3 linked regions of the Homo sapiens genome follow. The protein of the gene in region 3 interacts with the protein of the main gene of each other region in a biochemical or structural test. Each region holds a gene or a part of one and is shown on either strand. Other genes may lie near its edges.

Region 1 (7,022 bases), on a different chromosome or scaffold from region 3:
AGTATGGCAGTTGTTTTGGGAGATATAAATATGATTTAAGTCATCCACTCTGGTTTCAGATGCATGTGTTAGCAATTGTATATAATTCAAAACAAAATGGAATAAGAACTTCTGATGAGGTTCAGAGCTTGCTATCTTTATTGTAATTATAAACACGAAAGTTCAGAACATAAAATTCCTTGACAGCTTTACAGATACTTGTACTCTAGAGAGAGTATTTTATATTTTTCTAAGAAAATCCAATGTTTAAAATACAGTGTTTTTTTTGACAGAAGAAATTAAGTTTCTTTACCATTTTAAATGGAAATTTGAGATTTTGACTTTAACTTTTTCTAAAGTCTCTTCTCTCAGGTTTTGCTGAAAAGTTGTGCAGAATATAGGAGTACACTGATTGGGCCAATTGAGGTATAGGAGAGTGCTGACTGTGGAACTGGTTTAAAATTTTTCAGCTATTTGCTAAGCTGAAAAATCTATGGGCTGGGCATAGTGGCTCACGCCTATAATCCTGGCACTTTGGGACACCGAGGAGGGTGGATCGCTTGAACTCAGGAGTTTGAGACCAGCCTGGGCAACATGGTGAAACCCCGTCTCTACCAAAAAATATATAAATTAGCTGGGTGTGGTGGCATGTGCCTGTAGTCCCAGCTAGTTGGGAGGCTGAGGCAGGAGGATCTTCTGACCCCAGGAGGTCGAGGCTGCAGTGAGTTGTGATTGCATCACTACCCTCCAGTCTAGGCTACAGAGCAAGACTGTCTTAAAAAAAAAAAAAAAAAAATTTGGCCTCATCTTTTAGTCCAGTGTTATTTTATATATGATTTCTACTCTATTAGTATGTATCTGCCAATATTTTATTCTAATAACTGAATGTTAATTTTTCAAATGTCTGCATGGTAACTGTCTTGAATTTATTGTAAATTCACAAAAAGAAGTCTTAGTATATGTACATCTTTCTAGTAAACTAGAAATATACATTTACACATGGATCTTTTTAAGACTATTTGATGACTTGCAATCTAAAAACTTAAACGATTTTCTATGTAGTTTTGACGATCAAAAAGCATTAAAAATCCCAAATTTTAACACTCCAAAATTGTGAGCCTCTTTAGTATTCAAGAGTAGGATTGAATTTTAAAATCAGTGGGAAGGTAAAGAAAAATCCACTTTTTGAAATATTTATATTTATTGTAAATGTCATATTTTGAAGTGAAATAAGTGAGAAGAAATATTTCCTAAGCTTTTCCTCACCTTCATTACTTAGCAAGAATAAAGTCAGTGTGGTAAGGAAGAACTCTAAAAAATTTTTAAAAGATGTCATGGATAATCTTTAAGATCAAAATTAGAATAAAGCTTTAGCTCGATTATTTTTTAAAAGTAATTTCTCAGGTTTCTTTTAAAGCTCCTGGAGCTTTTTGATAGTGAAGATCCCAGAGAACGTGACTTCCTGAAGACTGTTCTGCACCGAATTTATGGGAAATTTCTTGGATTAAGAGCATTCATCAGAAAACAAATTAACAACATTTTCCTCAGGTAAATTAATCATTTATTGTATATTGCACCTTTTCCTCCTACATATCTTCTTGTATTCAAGTTCTTTTATTTTTATTTGTTTTTTTGAGACAGGGTCTCACTCTGTCATCCAGGCTGGAGTGCAGTGGTGAGAACATAGCTCATTGTAGCCCCCATCTCCCAGACTCAAGCAATCTTCCTCTCTCAGCCTGCCAAGTAGTGAGACTACAGGTGTGCACCACCACGCCTGGGTAATTTTTTTGACTTTTAGTAGAGACAAGGTCTATGTACTGTATGTACGTAGTATATATATGTAACATATATATGTAACATAGTATATATGTGTAACATATATATGTAACGTAGTATATATGTAACATACTATGTATGTTGCCCAGGCTGGTCTTGAACTCCTGAACTCAAGCAGTCCTCTTATATGGGGCCTATCATTTGCTTGTAGTCATCCCTCAGTATCTGGGGAGGATTGATTCCAGGGCCCCTGCTAATAGCAGAATCCAAAGTCCCTTATATAAAATGGCACAGTATTTGCATATAACGTCCACACATCCTCCTGTATACTTTATTTCTAGATTACTTACAATACTTAATACAGTGTGAATGCTGTGCAAATAGATGTTATTCTATATTTTAAATTTGTATTTATTTTTCAAAAATATTTTTGATCTGTAGTTGGTTGAATGCACAGATAATGAAACCTGCGGATACAGGGCCAAGTGTACTTTATAAATATTAATCTGTTAAGTAGTTGCTTCAGATCAGGAGATTTCATAACAACACCCACATTCAAGGTTTGGTTTGTTTAATTAATTGAAGATCTGGCAAAATTTGGTTACTATTCCCACATTGCAACAATTAGAGATGAGTAATATCTGCCTCCTCTAGAGTGAATATCTTTCTCCAGTTCTCTGTCATCACTTCCTAAGCCCATTTCAAATATCTGCCCTATTATATTTATGTCTCCCTGCTTTAAAGGCAGCCCTAATCTTGGAAAGCTATGCAGCCTATATAGTTAGAGGTGTAAAGAAATTCTGATTAAAAATGGCTTTATTACATATGGGTCTTTTTCTCTTGGATTTCCCTATAATTAGAGGTTTCTTATTTTAAAAAGTATTTCTTTGAGGAAACTTATCTTTCTTATTAATTATTAAGTTGAATATTCCAGGTGAAATGACAATCTGTTATCTTCACATATGGCGAGTTTTGGCAAAGGCATATGTAGTTCAGTAGGAAACATCTTCTTTTTTAAGATTGATATGAATTAACTGTTTGGGGCAAAACTGCTTATAAGACCCAAAACATGCTTGTGTGTTTCTAATAGCTGTCCTTTGGATTGATTTCTTCACCCTCCTGCCTGTTTCTCTTAGTTTTCTGAAGTTTGATTTTGATTACATCTTGTCTTTATTTTAAATTCAGGTTTATATATGAAACAGAACATTTCAATGGTGTTGCTGAACTTCTTGAAATATTAGGAAGGTAGGTCAGGTTTTTTTGTTCTTTTTAAGAATTAAGTAAGTGAATGTTTTATGTATTAAAATCTTAGCTGGGGTTGGAGAAATTATGTCATATTTTAGAGTTTAAATGTAGAACACATAGTTTCTCAACTGAAGTCTTTTTTTTTTTTTTGAGACGGAGTTTCGCTCTTGTTGCCCAGGCTGGAGTGCAATGGCGCGTTCTCGGCTCACTGCAACCTCTGCCTCCCGGGTTCAAGAGATTCCCCAGCCTCAGCCTCCTGAGTAGCTGGGATTACAGGTGCCTGCCACCACACCCAACGAATTTTTTAATTTTTATTTTTAGTAGCGATGGGGTTTCACCGTGTTGGCCAGGCTGGTCTTGAACTCCTGACCTCAGGCAATCCACCCCCTTCGGCCTCCCACAGTGCTGGGATTACAGGCGTGAGCCACCATGCCCAGCCTCAGCTGAATTCTTATTACCTTTTGCCATAACACTTTGCCTTCCTTATTCACTACGTATTAGTATTAAGAGAATTTTAGACCCTTCTGTTACTATTTAGACAATGATTTTAGTTTCCTTTATTAATAGTAGAAAATGATTGTGGAGAGAACTACTTCTTTCACGTTATCCAACAAAGTAAGAAAAATTACCCATTTACTTCAGAAAAATATTGAACATTCTAACAATATTGTGGTACTGACTCTCCTGGAGCTTTGGGGGCAAAAATAAAAGCAACAATGCATAAAGTGACAGGTTTGATAGAAAATGAAGATAGAAATTACTTGGGAATTAATTGACAGTCCTAATTTTCTTTTGGAATCATCAAATGACTTAGAGGAACAGACTTCATAGTAATAGTCTTCCTAAAGTAGTTTGAAGATGAGCAGTCATACAACACCAGGATTGAAGCATAGCACTGTTCCTTATGTACTCATGGATATGACAGCTTTTAGAAACAAAGTAGTAACTACTTAACCCTTCCCCTGCCTTTTTTTCCCTCCAGTATTATCAATGGCTTTGCATTGCCACTGAAAGCAGAACATAAACAATTTCTAATGAAGGTTCTTATTCCTATGCATACTGCAAAAGGATTAGCTTTGTTTCATGCTCAGGTAAGTTTCAGAAACATTTCAGATGAAATGAATATTATTTCAAAGGCCAATATAAAGGCAGAGAAATTGAGAAATACTGAGATGACAGTTTTAAGTATAATTAAGCAATTTGCTTACAAAATTACCCAAAGCAAATTTTTCTTATTTTAAAGTATTTAGTTGTTAAGTAAGACCAATTATTTAATTTCTATATCTACACTTACAGTTTAAGATACACACTTTCCTCATATTATAGTCCAGGTCTTGACCTAATTATGTGACTTTGAATAAATCCCACATATCTACAGAATGTTTCTTCCAGCTGCAATAACCTAGACCTAGTTAGAGAGATTTTGGTCTCTTCTATTAATATTTAGAGAATAATATATCAGCATAGGTGTACATGTAGAAACATGCTGAAAAACTAAATTGTTAGCTCTAGTCTTATTTCAGTTAACTTTATAGTCAGAAATTACTACTAAAAATGTTTTTTAAACTTGAAGTTACTTTCAAGGCTAAAAAGTTACACAATTGTGAGTATAGTTTCACGATTGAGGTATTTCACAATTTCATTCACAGTTGTGAGTATATTTTTATATATTGGAATAATTTATCAAAATGAGGTAGTCTAAAAAATATTGGCTAAATATAAAAATCCTACATTATTAAATGTTATCTCACTAATATTTATAAACTGTCCCTTACCTTTTAGCTAGCATATTGTGTTGTACAGTTCCTGGAGAAAGATACAACACTAACAGAGCCAGTAAGTGTTCTATTTATTTTCATGTTTTTGGTCTGCATTAATAGCATTTCATTGTAGCTTTCGTTTTATAGCCTTTATAGTTATTAAGTAGAATAATGTACGTTAAGCTAAAATCATTTAGAAGAAGAAATGTGAGATTAATCTACATTAAAAGAAGGGGTTAGGAGGGGAGAGTTCTCGTGAGTTATGTCTTGAATAACCGAAATATAGACTACTATTAATATGTAGTAGTTAAGATGTACGATGATAGGATCAGATGACCACAGTGAAATTTTATATGCATACTGTCTTCACCAATAATCTTTTAAATCTTCATTCACCTTTTGGAATTAAAGCATACTTCGAGGGTCCCAAAACTACTACTCCCTTGAATTTTGTTTTGTTTTTAATAATAGAATTTTTGCCACTCATTAACAATAAACCACTTGATAGGGATAGAAAACATTTCCTTGCTTTTGGTGATTAAGATATAAGATGTAATCTTGGAATAAAAGTAGTTTATGAACCAGCAAGGCAACTTAGGCTTTGAATTCTACTGTTATTTGCCTCTAGAATGAAAATTCAGGAGAGAGTGAAAACATAATTAGTTATGAAAATTTACTGAGGATTCAAGAAAAACAAAAGATGAAGTAGGGTGAAACAGAAAAGTATAAAAGCATAGAAAACATTTTAACCTTGGTGAAGTAAGTATTTTGAGAGAATGCTTTCTAGGCATGTTCAGTCTAAATATTTACCTAGTATTAGGTTGGTACAAAAGTGATTGCGGCTTTTGCCATTACTTTTAATGGCAAAAACCACAATCACTTTAGCAGCAACCTAATAAATATTTAGTAAATAGCAAAGGGTTTGAAAAACTAAAATATATATGTATTTTTACTATATTATGAACCTTCTCAGGCTATCCGTAGGGATGCTTGAAAAAATCATATACTTAGTATTCTCCCTTTCACTTGAACTTTGTGTAATGGAACAAAAGACATTTTTCCACTCCTTAATTTTTATTAGTTTTTTGACTTTTAGATTTACAGTCTTTTCTAGAAACAGCTGTAAACAGTTTTTGAAGACAATTCAGGAGAATTAGAAACCATATATTTGTACATGAAACCACATAAACCTCTGAAGTTGATTCCCAGGTGTGCAGTGGCTCACAACTGTAATCCCAGCACTTTGGGAGGCTGAGGCAGGCAGATAACTTGAGGCCAGGAGTTTGAGACCAGCCTGGCCAACATGGTGAAACCCTGTCTCTAGTTAAAATACAAAAATTAGCTGGGCATGGTGGCACAGGCCTGTGGTCCCAGCTACTCAGATGGCAAGGGCACAAGAATTGCTTGAATCCAGGAGGCGTAGGTTGCAGTGATCTGAGCTCATACCAGTGCACTCCAGCCTGGGCAACAGAGTGAGACTCTGTCTTCAAAAAAAAAAAGAAAAAAGTAAAACCTTAATACAAATCTATGATAACTCCCATTAGAATTAAGAAAAAGAAAACCCATAATAACACATATTGAAAAGTCATGGTTCATGCTTGGTAAATAGTATACAAATAAAATTTTATTTAATTAATTTGGGGTGGATAAGGAAGACAGGTGATTTATTTTTAAAGAATGGAAGATAGAGGCTGGGCATGGTGGTTCATGCCTGTAATCCCAGCACTTTGGGAGGCCGAGGCAGGCGGATCACCTCAGGTCAGGAGTTCAAGATCAGCCTGATCAACATGGTGAAACCCCATTTCTACTTAAAAAAAAAAAAAAAAAATTAGCTGGGCATGGTGGCGTGTGCCTGTAATCTCAGCTACTAGGGAGGCCGAGGCACAAGAATCACTTGAACCCTGGAGGCGGAGGTTACAGTGAGCCGAGATGACACAAAAAAAAAAACAAAAAAACAAAAAACCTTGACGATTAGGGAGAGGGATGATGGCCAGTTATTCAGCTTTTATCTGGTTTGGCTGAGTTGGGTTAATGAAAATAGGAGCAGGATGAGGAGAGAGAGTAAGATAAATACCCAGGTTAAGAAAGGAAAATATTTTCCAACTCATAAAGATCTCTCGATATAGAGATCTTGCAATTTCTAACATAGGCCATTCCAGCACCAAAATTACGGCCATATTACTTGGGTTTAAGCCTTAATACTAATTTTCTGGAAAGCAGGCATTCCTATCAAAGCTTTCTACAAATTATAAGTAGCTCAGA
Region 2 (7,971 bases), on a different chromosome or scaffold from region 3:
GGGGCCAGGAGGGAGCACAAGCCATCTGCCCTCTTAGACAGAAAACAGTGTGGAGGAGGAGGTAAGGTTCCTGAGGGGAGTCTTCTGGGTCTGTTGGGCACAAAGGTGAAAGCTGGTGTTATTCTGGGGTAGTTTAAATCAGGCCCACCTAATCTTTTTGGTCTCTGTTTTGGGGGAACAGGAAAGGAAGTATGAGGGGAGACTCTGAGAGAATGAAAAAAACAATGTGATCCTTATAAAAGCGTAGCGAGGAAGAAGGTGCTGCTGTCCGTTTTTCTTTTCAAACTCCAGTTTTGACTCCATCCCGGGTTTTCCAGTCTCCCGGGAATGAGGGTGGGGTGGGGCGGGATGGGGTGGAGAACCACCGGGAGCGGGCCGGGCCGGCCGGCGCGGTGGGTGATCCCGGGATGCTGGGATTTAGGGTGAGGGCGGGGTGAGATGGGGAGCGGAACCCGGACCCCGCGACCCAGCCCGGCCCGGCAGCCTGGGCTGTACCCTTTTCTAACTCCTCCTTTTCCAACCGAGGTGCGGATCCCGCATCCAAGACCTCCCAACTCGACCTTGGAACTAATGTTGGGGGGCGGGGGGCACAGCTGGTTGGCAGCTGGATGGGGGGACAATTCTCCCGCCTCCTTCCCTCTATGACTCACCCAGGGGAAGGAGGGAAGTTTGCAAATGATCCCCCAAACACTAGAGACTCCCCCAAACTTGCCTACTCAGTCATCTTTCTGCCCCACTGCCTAGCTGCCGAAGAGCCTCCAAGGAAATGGGGCTACACCCCTCCTCGCCCACGCGTTCCACAGCCCACCCATATCTCCCCTTCAGGCTAGTAAAAGGAAAATGTCGCCAACTTTTTTAGCTTCGGTAAAGTTTTTCTGGGGTGTGAGAGTTCGGGATGGGACAGGGAGCTCTAGGGTTCCCCTGCCGGAGCCCTAAACCATCTTCGGTGTCTCCCTGTTTTCCAGCGTCCCCCTCGCACCCCCGCTCCCCAACTCCCAGGAGTCGGCTCCGCCCCCCTACTCCCGGTCCCGCCTTCCCCGCCCCCGTGCCTCCTCGGCCCACCCAAGTCGCCGCCGCAGGCACTGGCTGCAGACGGCTCCGCTCCCCCCACCCGCCCCGGGAGCCCAGTAGAGCGAGCCATAGGGGTGGGGGCTGAGGGGCGGGCCACATTCTTCCCTCCTCCTCTCAGCACATCCGGAAAGCAGGCAGTGGCGCCCAGGGGGGCACTACTGGAGAGTGGGGGTCCCCGTTGGTGGGGTTAGAAAGGGAGAAGAATCCAGAAAGTATAGGGGAGAGAAAGCAGAGAAAGTGACTGGGTCAATAAAATTAGGTGTGTATGGGGAGGAGGAGGGGCCCGGACACCTTAGGTTGCTGGTTATAGCAGCCGGCTTCCCAAGGGTTAACCCCTCCAGACCCCCGGGAACCCCCTGGTGACGTCAAGGGCGGGGATGCCAGGGAGATAATGGTGGAGGGGGAGAGGTCTCTGGACCCCGCCCCCTAGGGAAAACCACACTTATTCCGACCCTTACATATCCCCCGGGAAACCGCCCGCCTTCTCCCTCTACTGGAACGTAAAGACCTATCCTAGAAGACCCCAGCTCTCCAGACCCCTAAAACCCTCAGTCCCCAGGCTCTACGGGGTCCCCTTTCCGTAATCCTGTCCCGAAAGCTAGCTGCCCAGTGCTGATTGTTTCGGGGTCATGGGACCTGAAAGAGGATTCAGAGCGGGGAGCAAGGGCAGGCAGGGTGGTCTGAGCCAGAGGAGGGGCCTCGATCCCCAGCTCCCGTTTGGGCGGGGTGCCAACGGGGATACACAGGCTGGCAGTGGCCAGTGGTCCCGCCCAGCCCCGGTAGGGGTCTCCCTGCGGCTGGCTCCCGCTGCCCCGGTGGTCCTGAGGTCAGAGGGTCAAGACAAGGTCTCCCCGGCTCCTCCTGAGCTCCTTGCCCACAGCCCTTGGGACTCAGGAGTCCAAATTGCATGGGGTCATTCTAGGGCCTTCACTAGACCTTGGACAGCCCCCCCCCGCCCCAGCCCCCTTCCAAGTCCAGAAGACACTCCTTTCCCCTAAAGCACAAGCATCCACTGGCACATCTGTCACAAGACAGGTCAAAGGTTCAAGCCTGGCTGGCCCCTAGTGGCTCTGTTGCCTCCCACACACCCGTCCCCACCCCACCTGGAGCTCCCTCCTTTGCAGTCCCCACCTTTCAGAAACACTGACATCTTCCTACCCCACGCGCAGACACACACCTGGGGTTACCTCTCTACAACGCAGACCTCCAGCTAGCCATCCCTCCAGCCTCTTAAACTTAACCGCATGAAAGTAAGATATTTCTAATATATGGGAGAGGCGGAGACAAAGACCCACGGTTCCCTGAGACAGAGATACACAGACTGACAGAAGAAAAAAAGGGAAGAAAAAGAAGATACAGAGAAAGACACAAGTGAAAAATCTGGAGTTTCTAATGTCTCACCCCAGGCTCTCCCACCCCTATTTTGCCTCTATGTCCCGGGTCTGGGATGAGTCCCTAAGAAGCTGAGCATCCCCTCAGGCCCCCTCCCCCACTGCTCCCAGGTGGTCCCCCGCCTGCCCCCCCTTCTCACCTCTGTCTGGGCGCTGGGCTCGGGATGCGCGGTCCAGGGCTGGAGTCTGGGCTGGGGGGTGTGCGGTGGGGAGGGGGGGCGGAGAGGGCCACGGCAGCGCAGCCTCGATGCCACCCCCACCCCCCCAACCTGGCCCCCAGCCCTCCCGCCGGCCCAGCCCGCCGGGCCGCAAGCCCGGACCACCCGCGAGAAGCGCAAACTTTTTTTTTCCCTTTTGCAAAAACTTTTTCTCTCTCCAGCCGCTGGCGCGCCGCCGCTCTTCCCGCTCGCCCCTCACCTCCCTTCTATTTCCCTCCCTCTTGCCGTTCTGGAGGATGAGGCGGGGTAGCTGGAAGCAAGAGAAGGGGTGCCGGGCTTATTGCACCCCCAGGACCCCCAGGATCCTCCCCCTCCCTTGAGGGACCCTATACTGCTTACGCCCCCCCCCCCGCCCCGGCTGAACACGCTGCTGTTGGTGAGTACTAAATCCCGGCTTGGATTTCTGGATCGGCTGGCCCCAAAGAGGCCCCGACAACCAGATTGAGGAAAATATTGCGGGGCAGGGGGAGAAGTTCAACCGAGAACGATAATAGTGGAGGTAGGGTAGTCGCCTTTGGTTGGTGCTAACTGAGCATTCTGCCATCCTGTGGTTTATCTGCAGGCCTCACCCTTTGGATGGAACTTGCAGCGGCCGGGACAGAGTTGCGGTTTGGGGCAAATCAAGTTGGGTTGGGGGCTCTGGAAGAAGGTGAGGAGTCTATGGAGCATAAAAGCAAGGAGCAGCGGCTGAGGCTCTGGGTGCAGGGTGTGGTTCACGAGGTCACCAAGGAGCCCTGGGACTGAAGCCCCTTTCCCTAGAACCCCGGCTCTACGTCTCGAAGTTCTGGAGGGTGCCGCCCCTCCGCACCACGTCACTGCAGGCTCTAGCTGCTCTTCCAGGCTTTCTGCTCCCTCTGCTGGCCGTTCTCACACATGACACCCGCTCGGAGTCGAAGCAGAAGAGCTGGGGAACTGAAGGAGGAGCCCAGTTGAAGGAGGAGCCCCTCACTAAAGCCCACTTAAAAGCCCAGGAGGTGGATATGTGAGCTCTGAGAAACGGAGAGGCAGAGGTTGCTATGCCCAGCGGTACTGCCTGACAGGGAAGTGCCCTGCCTCTTTAGATTTGCATTGCCATCGTGACCGGATATAAGGGAGGGGCAGCATTTCAGTCTCTGATTTTTATGAGAAAGAGGAGGAAGCATGACAAGGAAAAAGGGCACCCTCTCCCCTTTTTTTCAACCCCACAGGCAGACCTCCCACATCCTAGCTCTGCTTCCAAGAACCACCCCCTTGGGTGTGGAAGGTCAGTGGGTTAACTGTTCAGTCTGAGGGTCAAGGGGGAAAAGAAAAGGTGAAGGTAGGGGGAGATCTGGGACTTTGACCCAGGCTAGTTATCCCCAGAGGGTCAGAGACCCAGCTCAGTCAGACCAGACTAATGGGCACTGAAAAAAAGGCACCCCACACATGCTCCTGTCCCAGCCTCGAGCCCCTTCTTCCAGAGGAGCTATTTATGTATTTATGTATTTATTTATTTTTATTTGGGACGGGGCCTCACTATTTGCCCAGGCTGGAGTGCAGAGGCTATTCACAAGTGTGATCATAGCCTCGAACTCCTGGGTTTAAGCGGTCTTCCGGCCTTAGCCTCCTAAGTAGCTGGGACCACCGGTGCCCAGCAAGAAGAGCTCTCTTAGAACACCTTACTTTCTTCTCCCCACCCAGTTCTATAGACCAGTGAGTCTCAAACTTTTTGGTTTCCTCTATACTCTTAAAAGTCATTAGGTTAGGCACAGTGGCTCAGACCTGTAATCCCAGCACTTTGGGAGGCCAAGGCAGGCGGATCACCTCAAGTCAGGAGTCCGAGACCAGCCTGGCCAACATGGTGAAACCCCATCTCTACTAAAAATACAAAAAATAGCTGGGCATGGTGGCGCAGGCCTGTAGTCCCAGCTACTCAGGAGGCTGAGGCAGGAGAATCGCTTGAACCTGGGAGGTGGAGGTTGCAGTGAGCCGAGATTGTGCCACTGCACTCCAGCCTGGGCGACAGAGCGAGACTCCGTCTCAAAAAAAAAAAAATCATTGAGCTTTTGTTCATATGATTTACATCTATCAATTCACCACATTAGAAATTAAAACTGAAAAAGACTGTAACACAAGACCATACAAGCACACATTCCATTAACAATGATGTCAGAAAGATGATGTAATCACATGTCACACGGCCTCTGGAAAACTCCACAATACAATTTTAAGATAATGAGAATTCAAAAGGCAAATAACATGTTAGTATTATTATGAAAATAGCTTTGACTTTGTGGACACCCCTGAAAAGGGACCTCCCAGAAGCCTACAGAGTACACTTGAAGAACTGTTGCTCTGGACCATCACCCTAACCCTTCTTTATGACTCACATTTGTTGATTTTCTTTCTCCTTTTTATTAAGAAAGTATAAGCCAGGCGCGGTGGCTCACGCCTATAATCTCATCACTTCGGGAGGCCAAGTCGGGTGGATCAAGAGGTCAAGAGATTGAGACCATCCTGGCCAACATGTTGAAACCTCGTTTCTACTAAGAATACAAAAATTAGTGGGCGCCTGTAATCCCAGCTGCTCGGGAGGCTGAGGCAGAAGAATCACTTGAACCCAGGAGACGGAGGTTGCAGTGAGCCAAGATCGTGTCACTGCACTCCAGCCTGGTGACAGAGCGAGACTCGATCTCAAAAAAATAAAAAAGAAGAAAGAAAGTATAAATGCTTGTCTCCCAGTGGGTCCTGTCCCCTGGGAAAAACCAGGGAACTTCTTAGGCTTAGTGCCTCATTTTCCTGACTCCTGTTTCTGGGGGTCCCCTAAGCATCCTCCCTCAGCGCCTTGCCCATCTCCCTCTTGACCTTCCCTTAAGGTACCTCAACAGCCCTTACCCTGGGCCAGCCTGCTTACCCTGCTTCAAGCCTGCTGGACCATCTATCTGCTTCCTCCTCCCCTCACTTGAGGACTTTCTCATCTTGGGAGAGGCTAAGTAATTTTTCTCTGCCTTCCCTCCCTCCCTCCCTAGTCCCTGACATCTTCTCACAGGACTTAGGGCAGGAAATCATGCTTTCTGGGTAGACCCCTTTAGAAGAAACGCTTTACCCATCTCCCAACACATCAGCCAACCTGGAATAAGCCAGAGTCTCAGACAAGAAAGTGCCCATTTGGGTCCCATAGGGGTCAAGTGAGTCATATTGCCAGGTGGTTGTTGGGTTGGGGTGTGGATCAGGAATCTGATGCCTCCAGTCACAGATGCCCTGTGCCTGGGAAACTTCATCTTGGTCTCTTCACTCCAAAGCCCCAGGTCCTCTTGCTAGCTGCAGCCACAGGCCTCCACCACCATATCTGGCACATCCGTCTTGACCACATTGCCATTATGATCCAGGTAGAGGAGAGAGAGGGGCCTTCGGGCAGTAGGGACACAACAGGAGGTACTGGCAGGCCAAGGATTGTTGGCTTTGAGGAGGCTGAAGACGGCAGAATGGAAAGAGGCAGCAATGCCTGGGCTGCCAGCCAGGTGGGGAGGGCACTGCCCACTGCAGTAATTCAGCTGGTACCCCTCGGGCTGCAGTATCCAGTCCCGCCATCCCAGTTCCTGGAAGTCTACGTAATGGTCTCGCCTGCAACATAAGGGGGTCGCAGGCTCACAGGTGGGGGTCCTCCTCCTGGCCCGGCCTGCTCCAGGCTCATTGGCTCGGATCTTAAGCTCTAGGAAGGGCTGCTGGTGTCCTGCTGTGTCCAAGAGCCGCCTCGGTTGTCCAGTAACTGTGCTGTTGCCTTCTAGGGGTCTGCAGTCTAGTTGCAGTTTCAGGACACCAGACTTCTCACCCCTCAAGCCACTAGAGGGCAGAGTTAAGGTATGCCAGCCCAGGTTGGTGATGTGGTGCTCAGCCAGGAGAGTGCGGGACCCTTGGCGCCTCCTCCTTGGTCCCCATCGGAAGATCCTCAAGCAAAGAGTGCCAGGAAGGGTGGGGAGCACGTGCAGCCACAGGCGGGCATGGTACAGGTGGTGGGACCGAGGAGTGGACAGGTGAAAAGTGAGCAGGGAGCTGTAGGCTGAAGTGGAGTCTGCCCGAAAGACAGAAAAGGGAAAGAAAATGTGAGTAGAGATGAAGCTCTCCTCTGAGACTCCCCAAGCCCTGCCCACTGCTCTCCCTCGAACCTACCTCTAGAAAAGTAGAGACTGCTTTGTGTCCTCTGCAACCAGTCCCTGCCCCAGCTCCTCCTTCTCCTGCCACACCCCACTCCCTCTGCTGCTCCTGCCAGGCTCCCCTTCTGCCTCCCTTTCCCTGTCTGCTCTTTGCCTGTTGCTCTCTCCCTCACCCACCTGTGACAGTAGCAAAGCTGATGACCTCCTCCCCATTCCCTGGAGCCACACTCCCTGGCTGTAGTCTCCGGAGGGCTCTGGTCAGCGCTGCCTGGGGTGGAGGATGAGTTATTCTGGGACGACTGGTCAGGTGCAACCCATCCAGGATTTGCTGCTTGGCTAGCTCCAGCACCAGAGCTCGTTCTGCTTGGGGTGCCAGTTTGGAGCCCCCACAGGAGGGACACACAGACCCTGTCCCCTGTGCTCGCACCAGTGCCCACAGCAGCACCAGCCAGAGCTGGACATCAGGGAGCCGCATGCTCCTGGTGAATGGCCCTGGTTCAGGAGCCTCGGATGGCAGTTGCTCCGTCTGTTGAGTCTGATTGCTGGGGGCCAATGAGGGCACAGTGACAGCAGACACCACTGCCACACCTACCCTTGGCCAAGGGTACAGCCACCTGTCTTCTATTGTCTGGGACTCAGGAAGGCTGAAAGTAGATCATCTGATGGATAGCTGTGCTTGACCCTCACAGCTCATGTCTGGCTACTGACCTGGGGCCTCTTTAGAGCCAGCTGCCTGGGTCTTCCAAACCTAGTGGTCAGCCAGCCGACCTACCCTCTGAGTCCCAGGATTGGCCAGCTGTGCTGCCCATCAGGCCCCTGCAGGGGGTGGAGGTCCTCCTCCCCATCAGCTCAGGTTTCACCATCTGGCCATGGTGACTGGGCCTGAAGTAGGGGTATGGGGGTGGGGGGGTGCAATGTGGACACGCATGATGCAAGAAAGAGGATGATTTCACATGCTCAGTCCCCAAGGTCTGGGACTTGGGGGAGGGAACGCCTTATGAGCCAGGTGGGGAAGGGCAATTTTCCCTCATACCTCTAGTCTTTCTAGCTTCACCACTGCTGCAGCAGTTTCCATGAGGCAGCTGTGAGTTCCAGTGGGTATTCCTCTGGGGCCCTTAGGCCAGAAGGAAAATTCTGGTCTCTTTATTTCTAGCACTGGGGCTAGGACAGGGATGAGGG
Region 3 (7,022 bases):
GGGGCTCAAGTGACCTTCCCACATCAGCCTCCTGAGTAGCTGGGAACACAGGCATGCACCACCATGCCTGGATGATTTTTTTATTTTTTGTAGAGACGGGGTCTCCCCATGTTGCCCAGGCTGGTCTCCAACTCCTGGACTCCAGTGATCCTCCTGCCTCGGCCTCCCAAAGTGCTAAGATTACATACAGGTGTGGGCCACCATGCCTGGCCTTTAATGGTTTCTTAATAGCCCTCCAATCAGATTTCCTGCAGCAATATTTACCAATTCATTGCAGGGAAGGGACACGCTCAAACAGGGCAGTTGGTCCAGTGCCAGAGAAACTTAACCAGGAAAAATAGATGAAAAATTGAAGTGAAGAACACAGTACAATGTAATATGGTACTGAATGAAAAGATGAATCCATAGAGAGAGGATTATGGCACAGTGTCAGTCCCAGACTTATTCTTAAAGCATCATAAGGAGGAGAGCACACTTTAAAAGGTACCAAATAAGGGCCTCAGGTAACTGCTTTGAACAGAAGTTGTTTTACAAGCCTAGCATTTGAATGCCGCCACCACCAGCAACCCCCACAACTCTTTACAAGTTTATAGGCCTACTACTTCCCATGGGGAAGTCAAAGGGTAGTTCTATTGTTTTTCCTCCCTAAGCTGACCAAGCAATGCATTGTCTCCACCTTACTGGCATTACTTTTAATCCCCTTTTCTTGAAATAGCATGGAGTACTAGAGTTCTCATACATTGAAAACAACTGGCCAAAACCCAGAACACAAACCAGTCCAATTCCATGTTGTACAAATTTTTCCCAGGTCCTTTAAGAGATCTTTGCCCATTCAAATAGCATTTGGAGATTGAAAATGAATAAATCTGTTGATCGTGAAGGGAACATGAGGGATGAGTTGTTACACTTGCTTTGGTGACAACTGAGCCATTTGGGGACTTGGGGCACACCTTAAAAGAAGCAAATACAAAAGATTCCACCCAAAGAGAGTGCCTATCTTCTACCCTTTATCACTGTCCCTTGGAAATATTCTAATACCCTGTGGAAAGAAACGAACAGCATGAAATGTAGGAAGTAAAACTGCTCAAGTCTCTTCTCCCACTACTGATTAACTGATTGACTGACTGACTGAAACAGGGTTTCACTCTGTTGCCCAGGCTAGAGTGCAGTGGTGCAATCACAGCTCACTGCAGCCTCCTCCACCCCCAGGCTCAAACAATCCTCCACCTCAGCCTCCAGAGTAGCTGGGACTACAGGTGCACACCACCATGCCCTGCTAATTTTTGTATTTTTTATTGAGCGAGGGTTTCACCATGTTGCCCAGGCTGATTTCAAACACCTGAGCTCAAGCGATCCTCCCTCCTTAGCCTCCCAAAATGCTGGGATTACAGACATAAGCCACCGTGCCTGGCCCCTCACCTTATTTGCCTCTCCCCTCTTCCTAGACGAAATCTGCTCTGGTGCCCTATATGCCCTCTGACGAGGTACAGAAAAGGACAAAGTTGCCTATAAAGAGGTTTTTGCTTGTTCAGGAAAGTAAAATTAGATTTAAAACTTGCAGGAAAACCACCAGGAGCATAACTTCCCATATGATTCCACTTCAAAACATATACAAAAGTATGTATGAGAGTGACATAGCTGTAATATAGAAAGCATGCAGTAAAGGGGATAATGAATGAGGAGAAAGTGGGTATCTACAAAAAGACATCTGTCAAATTAACACATATATATCCCATCAATTATTTTATACCTTCTACAATTTCCCTATAGCTTCTTTAAAGAAGGGAACCTGGCTGGACAGGGTGGCTCATGCCTGTAATCCCAGCACTTTGGGAGGCTGAGGCAGGTGGATTGCTTGAGCCCAGGAGTTCGAGACCAGACTGGGCAACATGGCAAAACTACATTCTACAAAAAATACAAAAAATTAGCTGGGCATGGTGGTGCACGCTGTAGGCTCAGCTACTTGAGAGGCTTAGGTGGAAGGATCACTTGAGCCCAGGAGGTTGAGGCTGCAGTGAGCCATGATCATGCCACTGTACTTCAGCCTGGGCGACAGTGAGACCCTGTCCCAAAAACAAAAAGGGAACTTGGTTTTTTGTTTTGATTTTTATCCTCACAACCAAACTTTAAAAACTAGAGCATAACATCTAAGCTAGGAAGATTGGCTTATATATAATATGTATAGGTTTATATATTAAATGGCTTAGATATTATTAAATATATATAAAATTGGGCCAACTGTAATAATAAATTGGGATCAATACAAGGAGGATTATGACTAGGTTTAAGTGTTTTCTGAGGAGCATCCAACAATACTCCTAAAAGCGGAATGCAAGGAGTTATCAGTAACAACATTAACCACCCTAAGTATTGAGAATTTTCAGTTCTTTCAACTCAGATATTGAACAAAGATGGATGTGAATACACATACAGGCACACACATACACACACCACTTTTCAAGTCAGATCCACAAGTATGACTGAAGAAATCATTTCTAATTCTGTATAAGATGACGCTATTATAAGAGCTGGTTTATCAGGTTGACAAATTCTGTTTCCAGGAAGCTAACCAATTCCTGGCATTACTTAATGAACAAACTTGTTTAGTAGTTCCAGAGCTGAGAACACACTAGTGGAAAAGTTTGGCACTGTCATCTGAAATCTGGGACAACTGACACAAGTGAATCAGGGTTATAGAATCTAATTTTGTGTCAAAGTAAAATACATTCCTAGAGGTAGACAGGTTCTTCAACTGATACTTCAGAGGACATGTATAAAGACAGGAAGTAAATCAAGTGGCTCTTTTAGGCATTTCTTCCTGGATTGAGGTTTTGTTTTTGTTTTTTTTCCTTCTAAAAAGCAACATCACTATGCACACTTGGCTGCCACAAGCCAGTTATCTCTGTGGTATGGACTGAGACTAACTGAATTATCAGCACTCCTCCAATGTGGCATTCTTTAAAAACAAACAAAACTTTTAAAAACAAATAACAGGCTGGGCGCAGAGGCTCACGCCTGTAATTCTAGCACTTTGGGAGGCCAAGATGCGTGGATCACTTGAGGTCAGGAGTTCGAAACCAGCCTGGCCAACATGGTGAAACCCCGTCTCTACTAAAAATACAAAAAAATTAACTGCGCGTGGTGGTGTGCGCCTGTAATCCCAGCTACTTGGGAGGCTGAGGCAGGAGAATTGCCTGAACACAGGAGGCGGAGGTTGGTGTGAGCTGAGATAGCGCTACTGAACTCCAGCATGGCGACAGGGCGAGACTCCATCTCAAAAAAAAAAACAACAAATAACAACTTTCTTAGACTGAAGCAGTTAGGAATATGAACTTCAGAGTCAGAAAAATTTGGTAAGGAGGCCCTGAGCAAATCATTTATTCTCTCCAAACCTCAATTTCCTCATCTGTAAAATGGAGATAAAGCATCATTTCACAAAGCTGCTGTGGGAGTTAAAAGCAACAGAAAACCTACGAATTATTTCTTATGGTACCTAACACAGTAATGCTAAAAAAATGCTGGCTATTATTATCATCAATGAGAAAAGGTCAATGGAAAAAGACTGGAGGCCATTTAATCTACCCTAATACTTAATTTTATTACTGAACTTTTATAAATCATTAACAACAATTTACTGAATACTTATCTTGTATTACACATTAGAAAGTTTTAAAAGATATTTCAAGGTGTTCAAACTCTAGGGATAAAAAGATAAACAACACACAAATACAAAGTTGTATGAAAAAAAAGATAGAATTGGCAGGGCCCAGGGGCTCACGCCTGTAATCCCAGCACTTTGGGAGGCTAAGGCAGGTGGATCACCTGAGGTTAGGGGTTCGAGAACAGCCTGACCAACATGGAGAAACCCCGTCTCTACTAAAACTACAAAATTAGCTGGGCGTGGTGGCACATGCCTGTAATCCCATCTACACGGGAGGCTGAGGCAGGAGAACTGCTTCAAGCTGGGAGGCGGAGGTTGCGGTGAGCCAAGATGGTGCCATTGCACTCCAGCCTGGGCAACAAGAGCGAAACTCCGTCTCAAAAAAAAAAAAAAAGACAGAATTAGACAATATATAAACCAGAGTATATAAATACAAATGTATAAAAATAAATATTTTTAAATATGAGTAGCTTATATGGTTATATAAGAGGTTATATGGATGATTTTACATAATTGTTAACAGACTAAAGATTCTTTAAGAAAAGCAAGCTGGCTGGGCGTGGTGGCTCACACCTGTAATCTCAGCACTTTGGGAGGCCGAGGCAGGCAGATCACCTGAGGTCAGGAGTTCAAGACCAGCCTGGTCAACATGGTGAAACCTCATCACTACTAAAAATACAAAAATTAGCTGGGCGTGGTGGTGCACACCTGTAATCCCAACTACTGTGGAGGCTGAGGCATGGGAATAGCTTGAACCTGGGAGGCAGAGGTTGCAGTGAGCCAAGACTATGCCAACACATTCCAGCCTGGGCGACAGAGTAGAGACTCTGTCTCAGAAAAAAAAAAAAAGGATTGAAGAAAATAAGAGTGACAGGCCGGGCGCATTGGCTCACACCTGTAAGTCCAACATTCTGGGAAGCCAAGGCGGGCATATCACTTGATCCCAGGAGTTTGAGACCAGCTTGGGCAACATGGCAAAACCCCATCTCTACAAAAAATACAAAAAATTAGTCATGGCCAGGCACGATGGCTCATGCCTGTAATCCTAGCACTTTGGGAGGCCGAGGAGGGTGGATCAGCTGCAGTCAGGAGTTCAAGACTAGCCTGGCCAACATGGTGAAACCCTGTCTCTACTAAAAATACAAAATTAGCCAGGCATGGTGGCCGGTGCCTGTAATCCCAGCTACTCGGGAGGCTGAGGTAGGAGAATTGCTTGAACCCGGGAGGCAGAGGTTGCAGTGAACTGAGATCGTGCCACTGCACTCAAGCCTAGGTGACAGGGCAAAACTCCACCCCAAAAAAAAAAAAAAAGTATTTGTGAACTTTACACGTGAACAAGTTGAGGTAGCGTAATAGTGTGCTTATAACTTTGAAAAGATTTCCTGAGAGTGGGAGTGGTCTGACACACTTAGAAGCTACCAGGAAGAAGCATAAGGAGAAAGAGGTTAATTTTAGAGATTAAGAGGTTAAGAATCTAGGAAAAGGAGGAGTATTCATGGAACTAGAAAAGGATCTATCAAACAAGGATTAGAGTTCAGGCTTAAAAAGTAGAAGCTCTTAGGCAGTTTTAAGTAATTCCCCAGTGGCATGTAGTTTTTCTTCTCCTGGTACCCCAACCTGTGGTATGGAGGCTGCCAGGCAACATACTCCTCTCTTTAGCTCCAGCAGGAAGCCACTCTTCCAGACTGAGCTATTACTTGTATCTCAAAGCAGGGTCTTAAGGCACTTCCCATTTGTGAGTTCCCTTGGCTAACAACCCAGAAAAGTTGCCAGAAGCACCACATTCTCTAATAAACATTGTTATCCCGTATGGTGTCTGTTTACTATGCCACACACTCTCTCTCTTTTCCATAGATACAATCCCCAAAGTAATGTTTTAATCTTTGTTTTGTTTCATTTAACTAATGATGTTATTTCTTCATCTTGACAATGTTCTACCCAGCTCCACCAGATCGTCTGATCGCACTGCCCACTCAGGAGAGTCTGTGCTTCAGTGTCCCTGAGTCAGATTTTACTTTCTCTTCATGACATTCCACATACTTCCACTGCCTCCACCCTGTCCATGCCCAGGCAAACATCATTTTACAATGAGTATATGCAATAAGGCCAGACCCTCAATTCATAAGAAACTTTTATCCTTCAAGAAATGGTTGAACCTTTGCTAAATCTCAAAGTCAAATGCTGGCGTTTTTCTGTTCTAAGATATAATAGGCATTCAATATTAATTGATGGTTCAAATTCTTAAAACACATATTATAAAGTAGGCCATTTATTCCTCATAAGAATCAATATATATCACCACTACATTTTAACGTTTAGTGAAATTAACCCAAAGGACTGGAGACTATAGAATTACATGTGTCAATACCAAAACGACAGAATTGATCTCTCTCCTGTATATCTTTACACACTTTTGCACTTAATTGTTTACATGTTTCTGCTTCACCTTACCTAACTGTAACTTCTTGAGGACAGGATAACACAGGCACAGGGCTTAATACTATGCCTGGCACATAGGAGGCATTCAACAAATGGGCAAAGAATAAATTAACAGCTTCCATAGAACCAGAAAAACCTCATCTTATCCTCTGTGTATTCCCCTAAGTAATGCTCAGTTGGACAGATACTTACTTTTTACAGATGCCTAAAATTCAGCTATTTTTTGTTTGTTTTTTGTTTTAGAGACAGGGTCTCTCACTCTTGTTGCCTGGGCTGGAGTGCAGTGACACGATCATGGTTCACTGCAGCCTCAACCTCCCAGGCTCAGATGATCTTCCCACCTCGGTCTCCTGGGTAACTGGGACTATAGGGGCATGCCACTACGCCCAGCTAAGTTTGTGTGTTTTTAGTAGAGACAGGGTTTCACCATGTTGCCCAGGCTGCTCTCGAACTCCTGGGCTCAAGCGATCTACCAGTCTCAGCTTCCCAAAGTGCTGGGATTATAGGTGTAAGCCACCATGCCCAACCTAAAATTCAGTTTTAAAATCCAACTGTCATTTTTAAAAATATCAGAAATCTAGTAATGACATAGCCATGTTGATTTATTAAACTGTGATTCAAATTTCAATCAAAACAGCTGCTAACTATTCAGAGTCTACATAGGTGGTCAGATTCTAGCCAAACTGAATTGAGACTATTCTAACAGGGAGCTCCTAACAGCCTTGGAACCCTAGACAAGGTGTCTGTAAGTCACAATAATTCTGACTTCAAACCAGAACCAGATCATCTGTAATCCTGTACTCCATTCACTATAGTTTCCTGTAGCATTTCCAAGTTGTTACATATTTTTCAGTGATATATAAAGTTTCAGACTGCGTTTATAAAAAGACCACATAAACAATCTCAGGTATTATGAACAGCA

Evidence for each region. The genes of interacting proteins can lie anywhere in the genome.
Region 1: of the proteins of MAP3K3 (region 3) and PPP2R5A, one has a biochemical effect on the other in vitro, tested with the Homo sapiens proteins (one study listed by IntAct).
Region 2: of the proteins of MAP3K3 (region 3) and GLI1, one has a biochemical effect on the other in vitro, tested with the Homo sapiens proteins (one study listed by BioGRID).

The regions. Positions count from the first base shown.
Region 1 is NC_000001.11:212,344,407-212,351,428, forward strand, and holds part of PPP2R5A (serine/threonine-protein phosphatase 2A 56 kDa regulatory subunit alpha isoform), read left to right. Parts: intron 1-1,396; coding exon 1,397-1,527; intron 1,528-2,940; coding exon 2,941-3,000; intron 3,001-3,982; coding exon 3,983-4,091; intron 4,092-4,782; coding exon 4,783-4,836; intron 4,837-7,022. UniProt on the Homo sapiens protein: The B regulatory subunit might modulate substrate selectivity and catalytic activity, and might also direct the localization of the catalytic enzyme to a particular subcellular compartment.
Region 2 is NC_000012.12:57,454,833-57,462,803, reverse strand, and holds the start of GLI1 (zinc finger protein GLI1), read right to left. Parts: upstream 3,020-7,971; 5' UTR 2,603-3,019; intron 2,528-2,602; exon of another isoform or gene 2,249-2,527; intron 62-2,248; exon of another isoform or gene 1-61. Other genes in the region: INHBE (inhibin beta E chain preproprotein), read right to left, coding at 5,956-6,710, 6,970-7,267. UniProt on the Homo sapiens protein: Acts as a transcriptional activator. Binds to the DNA consensus sequence 5'-GACCACCCA-3'. Regulates the transcription of specific genes during normal development.
Region 3 is NC_000017.11:63,625,396-63,632,417, reverse strand, and holds part of MAP3K3 (mitogen-activated protein kinase kinase kinase 3), read right to left. Parts: intron 1-7,022. UniProt on the Homo sapiens protein: Component of a protein kinase signal transduction cascade. Mediates activation of the NF-kappa-B, AP1 and DDIT3 transcriptional regulators.